Homo sapiens: one gene and its partner. The protein of the gene in region 1 purifies or fractionates together with the protein of each later gene. This does not show direct contact. Each region holds a gene or a part of one and is shown in the gene's direction. Other genes may lie near its edges.

The links. Proteins that work in one complex are often made in the same cells at the same time.
Region 2: the proteins of NHSL2 (region 1) and CYFIP1 purify together in Homo sapiens (affinity purification with mass spectrometry; 2 studies listed by BioGRID and IntAct, with this or other methods). This does not show direct contact.

Annotation. Positions count from the first base shown.
Region 1 is NC_000023.11:72,130,845-72,134,344, forward strand, and holds part of NHSL2 (NHS-like protein 2), read left to right. Parts: coding exon of another isoform or gene 1-696; exon of another isoform or gene 697-1,071; intron 1,072-1,234; coding exon 1,235-1,390; intron 1,391-3,246; coding exon 3,247-3,374; intron 3,375-3,500. Other genes in the region: RTL5 (retrotransposon Gag-like protein 5), read right to left, coding at 1-696.
Region 2 is NC_000015.10:22,970,369-22,973,868, reverse strand, and holds part of CYFIP1 (cytoplasmic FMR1-interacting protein 1), read left to right. Parts: intron 1-3,500. UniProt on the Homo sapiens protein: Component of the CYFIP1-EIF4E-FMR1 complex which binds to the mRNA cap and mediates translational repression. In the CYFIP1-EIF4E-FMR1 complex this subunit is an adapter between EIF4E and FMR1.

The DNA of each region.
Region 1 (3,500 bases):
GATGGGGCCACAGAATTCCTTACGGATTTCATCCAGGAAGCGCGGGAAGTTGGCATGCAAGGGGCTTCCTTCCTGGGTGACCGAGATGGCCCAGTCCTTGGCTTCGCCAGTGAAAAAGGAGATCAGAAAGGCCACCCGCTCGGCGCCCCCGGGGAAATGAACCTCATGGTCGGCTATGAAGGTCTCTAGCTGCATCAGGAATTCAGCCAGGTAGACTGGGTCTCCTGAAAAGGGCTCTATCTCAGGCCGCTCCAGCGGTGCCAGAGGGGGTTGCGGGGGCGGTTCCTTTGACGCGGGCGGAGGCAGCGCCGGCGGGGGCGGGATGGGCAGCAGAGGGGGGTCAGCGGGCCCGTCGGGGGTGCTGCGATCCTGGATCACGTTAATCAAAAGATCATCCGAGATACAGTCGGGCTCCGCGCGTGGGGGAGGCCGGCACAAGAAGGGCAGTTCTCCCCCGGGAATGACTTCGATCTCACTGAGCGCGAACTCCAAGTTCTCCTCCGCAAGGACGGGCACTATGGGTACTGGCCAGCGGATGTAGCTGGAGACATTGCCCCGCAAGGAATTAACCTCGGCCAGGGCTCTCCCGAGCTGGAGGCCCAAATTGGCATTCTCCCCGCGAAGGGCATTTAATTCTTCGCGCAGGGCCACATTCGCCATGCGGAGGCTGTTGAGATTTCCTGACGCCTCAGACATCTCGACAAGCCCAGGGGCCCTGGGGCTCCGTGGTGGGGAAAGGGGAACTGGAACTACGGGCGGCCGGAGGAGGCCGAAATGCGGCGGCGGGGCTCGGGAGGGACCGAAGTGCGGCAGCGGGGCACGGGCCAGGCCGGGCCACACCCACCGGGGCGAGCTCGGAGGGCGGCGCTCTGGGCGGAGGGCCCGGCGGCTCGGCCCAGGGCGCGTTACCTCGTCGCCGGGGCCGGAGAGGGCGGGCGGAGGCACGGGGCCCGGAGGCGCCAGGCGGAGGATGCGGGCGACACGGTGGCGGCGGCGACCGCGCGACCGGGCGGGCGGGCGGGCAGGGGCGAGCGGAGCGGGAGGGAGCGGACTGCGGCAGGATCTGTCGAGGAAAAATCTTGCGGCCGGCGATTCCCCGCCTTTTAAGCGCAGCCTCGCACTCCCCCCACCCCACGCAGGGGCGGGCCTTGGGGAACCGCGGGCGCCCACTGGCCGCCGCGCGCCGCTCCCCTCCAGCTCGCCTGCGCCTCTCACTGACTCTCTCCTTCCCTAGCTGCAGCTAACTCGGGTCGGGAAAATGCGACAGCGACTGCCCACTCGAGGTCGTCATGGCGACAGCCAGTGAACGTGTTCCTCTCCTCGGGCAGGCCCCCGAGTGTAGAGGAGCTGCTTCGGGAGGCGCAGCTCAATCTCCAGAGCCTGTTGCAAGGTACCGAGAGGGAGGGGGGCTGCGGCCGGAGCCCAGAAGCGAGATGCGCAGCGGCAGGAGGGAGGCAAAGAAGAAAGAGGACAGGGACCAGCAAGATAAAGACAGAGAGTTTAAAAACAATCGACAAAGCAGTTTCCAGCTTTCACCTTTCAGCCTAATGATTCTGAAAGAGGCTATTTCCAGGGCTGTTTCCCCCCATCCCCAGCCCCTTTTTTCAGCTCAGTAGCCCATGGGGAAACAAGGACAGAGACTGAGGCAGGGCCATAAGTTATGCCATTCACCGAGAGCTGGGTGGGAGACTCCCACAATGTGGGCCTACATTCCCTCCAGCCCCCCTCTTGCCACATCGCCCATGCCTTTGGGATCCTGGCACCAGAAGACAAAGGGGGCATCTGCAGGATCTCCCACTCTGGGCTTCACTCACTCTGCTCTTGCAATAACCCCTGGATAGCTACTGCCTCACCAAAGTAAGCCCAATACACAGCACCCAGAGGTCACCTATTTTGTCCCCCCTAACCAAGCCTGAGCTTCTCGATGTAAAGAATCACATCTTGCTACCCTTAGGTTTCCAGAAGCACCTGGCACAAGGCTGGATTCCCTCCCCACCTGCCAAGAGGTGCTCAGTGGATGTTGAGCATGAAAAGAGGTCTTGTCAGCACTCCTTTATCTATACTAATAAAGGTTAACTCTAATGGCGAATAGAAAACTGCTGATGGGCCACCAACAGGATGACAGCCATAACCCCCACCCCCTACCAGGGCAGTGGTGACCTTGGAAAAGCAAGATGCCAAGGGACACCATGAGCCTTGTGTTCAGATAACAAAGGACTTGCCACACAGAAAAAGAGTCGATGTGCTCTGTGTTGCTACCATGGCAGAATTAGGACCAGTGGGTGGAAACCCAGAAGGAGGCACATTCCACCTCCAGATAAGGAAGAACTTTCTGACACACCTGACAGCCCCAACTGTCCGTGGAAGAAATGAGCTGCCTTGGGAGGGAGGGAGCTCCCCTTCCCTGCAGGTGTGTGCGCTGAGGCTGAAGAAACACCTAGAAGGGCTGCTGAGGAGGGAGTCTGGGCACAGAATGAGGCGTTGGACCAAAGAACCCCAAGAGCAACCCCAAATCTCTGTGATTCTGAGTCTTTGTTCAGTGTACATACAGCATGAATGTCCCTTCTCTACTCTCACTTTCTTCATGTATTCTCATCAAATTCATCACTTCAATCAACCCTATTCAAATCTTGTGCATCCTTACTCACTGATGATGCCGCTGAACTTCTGCCTCTTTTATGCTGTTACCTCCTCCTTCCCTCTCCTTCACCTTAGCCCTCCTAGACCTGACATCACTTACAGCGGGACTAAGGTGCAGGGAACACGGCCCACAAAGGCTCAAGTAAAAGTTCTTGACATCCAAGAAAGAACTCCAGATTGGACTTCCTGGTGTAAATCTCTTCTTGCTTCACACAGGTCATTTCCTTGGTAGGGTCGCAGAAAACCTTAAGAGCTGCAGGGCTTCAAAGAGAGGAACTTGCAGTCCAAAGTAGCAAAAGGTGTCTGCATTCTGAGCCTCTTTTCGTAACTGAGCACTCAAGGTGGGGATCATTGAGATAAGGGCTTGGTCCCCAAACCACCACAGCATGAATTTATTGACTTTCTCTTCTCCTCGATCCTCATGGTCCTGGGAAGCAAGCACTTTTCCATTTCCAAATCCAGTGGCTCAAACACCTGGAAATAGCCTAAAGAAAATGCAAGTCAGGCCTGGCAGCTAGAGCAGGAGTCCTGGCTCATGGCCCTTCCCCGGCCCAGCGCTCGGCCATGGCACCCTAGAGTGTGTGTCTCCACTGTGCTATTTTTCAGAAGAATATGAGGAACAGTACTCGGAGGCCAGACTTGTGGGGCAGACCTTCCGCTCTTCTGATGAGGCCACTAAGCCCACCCCCAACCCAAGGCCCCAGTCTGCCAGGCGTCTGGAGTTTATATTGATGGTGAGTTGCCTCATCCCCCACCTGGGAGAGCCAGCATGCACCCACTGACAAGAGACCTCCAGCTGCTTACTTTACCCACTGGAAGCTGCTCAGCCCTGCTCACCAGCAGAGCTACCCTGAGGCCCC
Region 2 (3,500 bases), on another chromosome or scaffold:
GATCTTTTACAATTGAGTTGTTTGAATTCTTTGTATATTTTCATTATTAATCCCTTATTAGTTATATGGTTTGCAGATATTTTCCTGCATTCTGTAGATTGTCACTTTGTTGATTGATTCCTTTGCTGTGCAGAACATTTTTAGTTTGATGTAATCCCATTTGTCTATTTTTTCTTTTGTGGCCTTTGCTTTTGAGGCTTTATTTCCTCAAAATAAGCCAGGCACAGAAAGACAAGTACTGCACGATCTCACTCACATGTGGAATCTGAAAACGCTGATGCCACAGAAGAACAGAGCAGAATGGTGGTTACCAGAGGCTGGGGTGGCTGGCGGAAGGGGAGAGAGGAAGATGTTGGTCAAAGGATACACATTTACAGTTAGATACAAGGGGGAAAGTCCAGAATAGGCAAATATACAGAGACAGAGAGTAGACAGGTGATTGCCTGGGGCCAGAAAGCAGGGGAGAGAGGATCAGTGAAGAACGGGTAGAAAAAGTGAGAATAACTGCTAATGGTTAGGGAGTTTCTTCTCCCTTTTTTTTTTTTTTTTTTTTTTTTGACAAGGTCTCGTTCTGTCACCCAGGCTGGAATGCAGTGGGGCAATCATGGCTTACTGCAGCCTTGCCCTTTTGGGCTTAAGCAATTCTCCCACCTCAGCCTCTCCAGTACCTGGCACTACAGGTGTGCACCATCATGCCTGGCTAAATTTTGGTTGGTTGTTGTTTTGTTTTTTTGAGACGGAGTCTCACTCTGTCGCCCAGGTTGGAGAGCAGTGGCGCGATCTTGGCTCACTGCAACCTCTGTCTCCCAGGTTCAAACGATTCTCCTGTCTCAGCCTCCTGAGTAGCTGGGATTACAGGTGTGCACCACCATGCCCGGCTAATTTTTGTATTTTTAGTGGAGGCAGGGTTTCACCATGTTGGCCAGGCTAGTCTCAAACTCCTTACCTCAAGTGATCCTCCTGCCTCAGCCTCCCAAAGTGTTGGGATTACAGGTGTGAGCCACCGCCTAATTTTTGTGTTTTTTTGTAGAAATAAGGTTTCACCATGTTGCTCAGACTGGTCTCAAACTCCTGAGCTCAGGTGATCCCCCTGCCTGGGCTTCGCAGGGATTATAGGCTAAGCCACCGCACCTGGCCACATTTAAGTCTTTAATTCATTTCGGGTTGATTTTTGTCTATGTTGAGAAGCCAAGGTCTGATATTATTTTTCTGTATGTGTGTATCTAGTTTTCTCAACACCGTTTATTGAAGAACCTATCCTTTTCTCATTGTGTGTTCTTGGCACCTTTGTTAAAAATCAGTTGGCTGCAAATGCATGCATTTATTTCCAGGCTCTATTCTGTTCCATTGGTTTATGTGTCTGTGTTTATGACAATAGTGTGCTGTTTGGGTTACTATATCTCTGTAGTTTTTTTTGTTTTGTTTTGTTTTTGAGACGGAGTCTCACTCTGTCACCCAGGCTGGAGTGCAATGGCGCAATCTTGGATCACTGCAACCTCCGCCTCCCGGGTTCAAGCGATTCTCCTGCCTCAGCCTCCTGAGTAGCTGGGGATTACAGGCGTGCGCCACCACACCCAGCTAATTTTTTTGTTTTTAGCAGAGACGGTGTTTCACCATGTTGGCCAGGCTGGTCTCGAACTCCTGCCCTCAGGTGATCCGCCCACCTCAGCCTCCCAAAGTGCTGGGATTACAGGCGGGAGCCACCATGCCCAGCCTCTGTAGTATATTCTGAAGTCAGGTAGTGTGATGCCTCCAGCCTTGTTCTTTTGCTCAGGATAGCTTTTGCTATTCCAAGTCTTTTGTGGTTCCACACAAATTTTAGGATTTCTTTTTCTATTTGCATGAAGAATATGGTAGGTATTTTGATAGAGACTGCATTGAATCTGTAGATTGCATTGAATCTGTAGATTGCTTTGAATCTGTAGATTGCATTGAACCTGTAGATTGCATTGAATTTGTAGATTGCTTTGGGTACTATCTATTGTTTATTTATTTTTTGAGATGAGTTACCTAGGCTGTTACCCAGGCTGGAGTTCAGTGGTGCAGTCATGGCTCACTGCAGCTTTGATATCCTGGGCTCAAGCGATCCTCCCACTTCAGCCTCCTGAGTGTCTGGGACTACAGGTGTGAGCCACCACGTGCAGCTACTTTTTATTTTATTTCTTTTCTTTTTCTTTTTTCTTTTTTTTTTTGAGACAGAGTTTTGGTCTTGTTGCTCAGGCTAGAGTGCAATGGCGCAATCTTGGCTCACCGCAACCTCTGCCTCCCGTGTTCAAGCAGTTCTCCTGCCTCAGCCTCAAGCTACTCAAGCTGGGATTACAGGCGCCCACTACCACGCCTGGCTAATTTTGTATTTTTAGCAGAGATAGGGTTTCTGCATGGTGGTCAGGCTGGTCTGGAACTCCTGACCTCAAGCGATCTGCCTGCCTTGGCCTCCCAAAGTGCTGGGATTACAGGCATGAGCCATCACGCCCAGCCTTATTTTATTTTTTAGTAGAGACAAGGTCTAGCTGTGTTGCCCAGGCTAGTCTTGAACTCTTGAGCTCAAGTGATCCTCCCACCTCATCCTCACAAAGTGTTGGGATTACAGATGTGAGCAACAGCACCTGGTCTATTAATTCTGTTGTTGCCAGTGTTTTTGGTGTCATATCCAAGAAATCATTGCCAAATCTGATGTCATGAAGCATTTCTCCTGTTTTCTTCTAAGAGTTTTATAGTTTTAGATCCGATGTTTAGGCGTTGATCTGTTTTGAATTAACTTTTCTTTTTTGTGTGTGTGTTTGGTTTTTTTTCGAGACAGATCCTTGCTCTGTCGCCCAGGCTGGAGTGCGGTGGCGCAATCTCGGCTCACTGCAAGCTCCGCCTCCCGGGTTCAAGCGATTCTCCTGCCTCAGCCTCTCTAGGAGCTGGGATTACAGGCCCCCGCCACCACACCCAGCTAATTTTTTGTATTTTTAGTAGAGACGGGATTTCACCGTGTTAGCCAGGATGGTCTCGATCTCTTGACCTTGTGATCTGCCCGACTCGGCCTCCCAAAGTGCTGGGATTACAGGAGTGAGCCACCACGCCAGGCCAAATTAACTTTTCTGTATATTATATAAGGTAATGGTCCAACATAATTCATGTATGTGTGGATATTCAGTTTTCCTAACACAATTTGTTGAAAAGACTATTCTTTTTCCATTGAATGATCTTGACATCATTGTTGAAAATTGTTTGGCCACATATGTGAAGGTTTATGTCTGGGTTCTTTGTTCTGTTTAATTGGCCAGTATGCCTTTCTTTATGCCAGTGCCACACTGTTTCAATTACTGTAGCTTTATGGTAAGTTTTGAAATAAAAAGGAGTGAAGTCTCCAACTTTGTTCATCTTTTTCAAGATTGCTTTGGCTATTCTGGGTCCTTGGAGATTCCTATGAATTTTAAAATGGGTTATTTTTGCAAAAACAAAGTGCTGTTGGAATTTTCAAAGGGATTGCATTGAGTCTTTAGAAGGCTTTG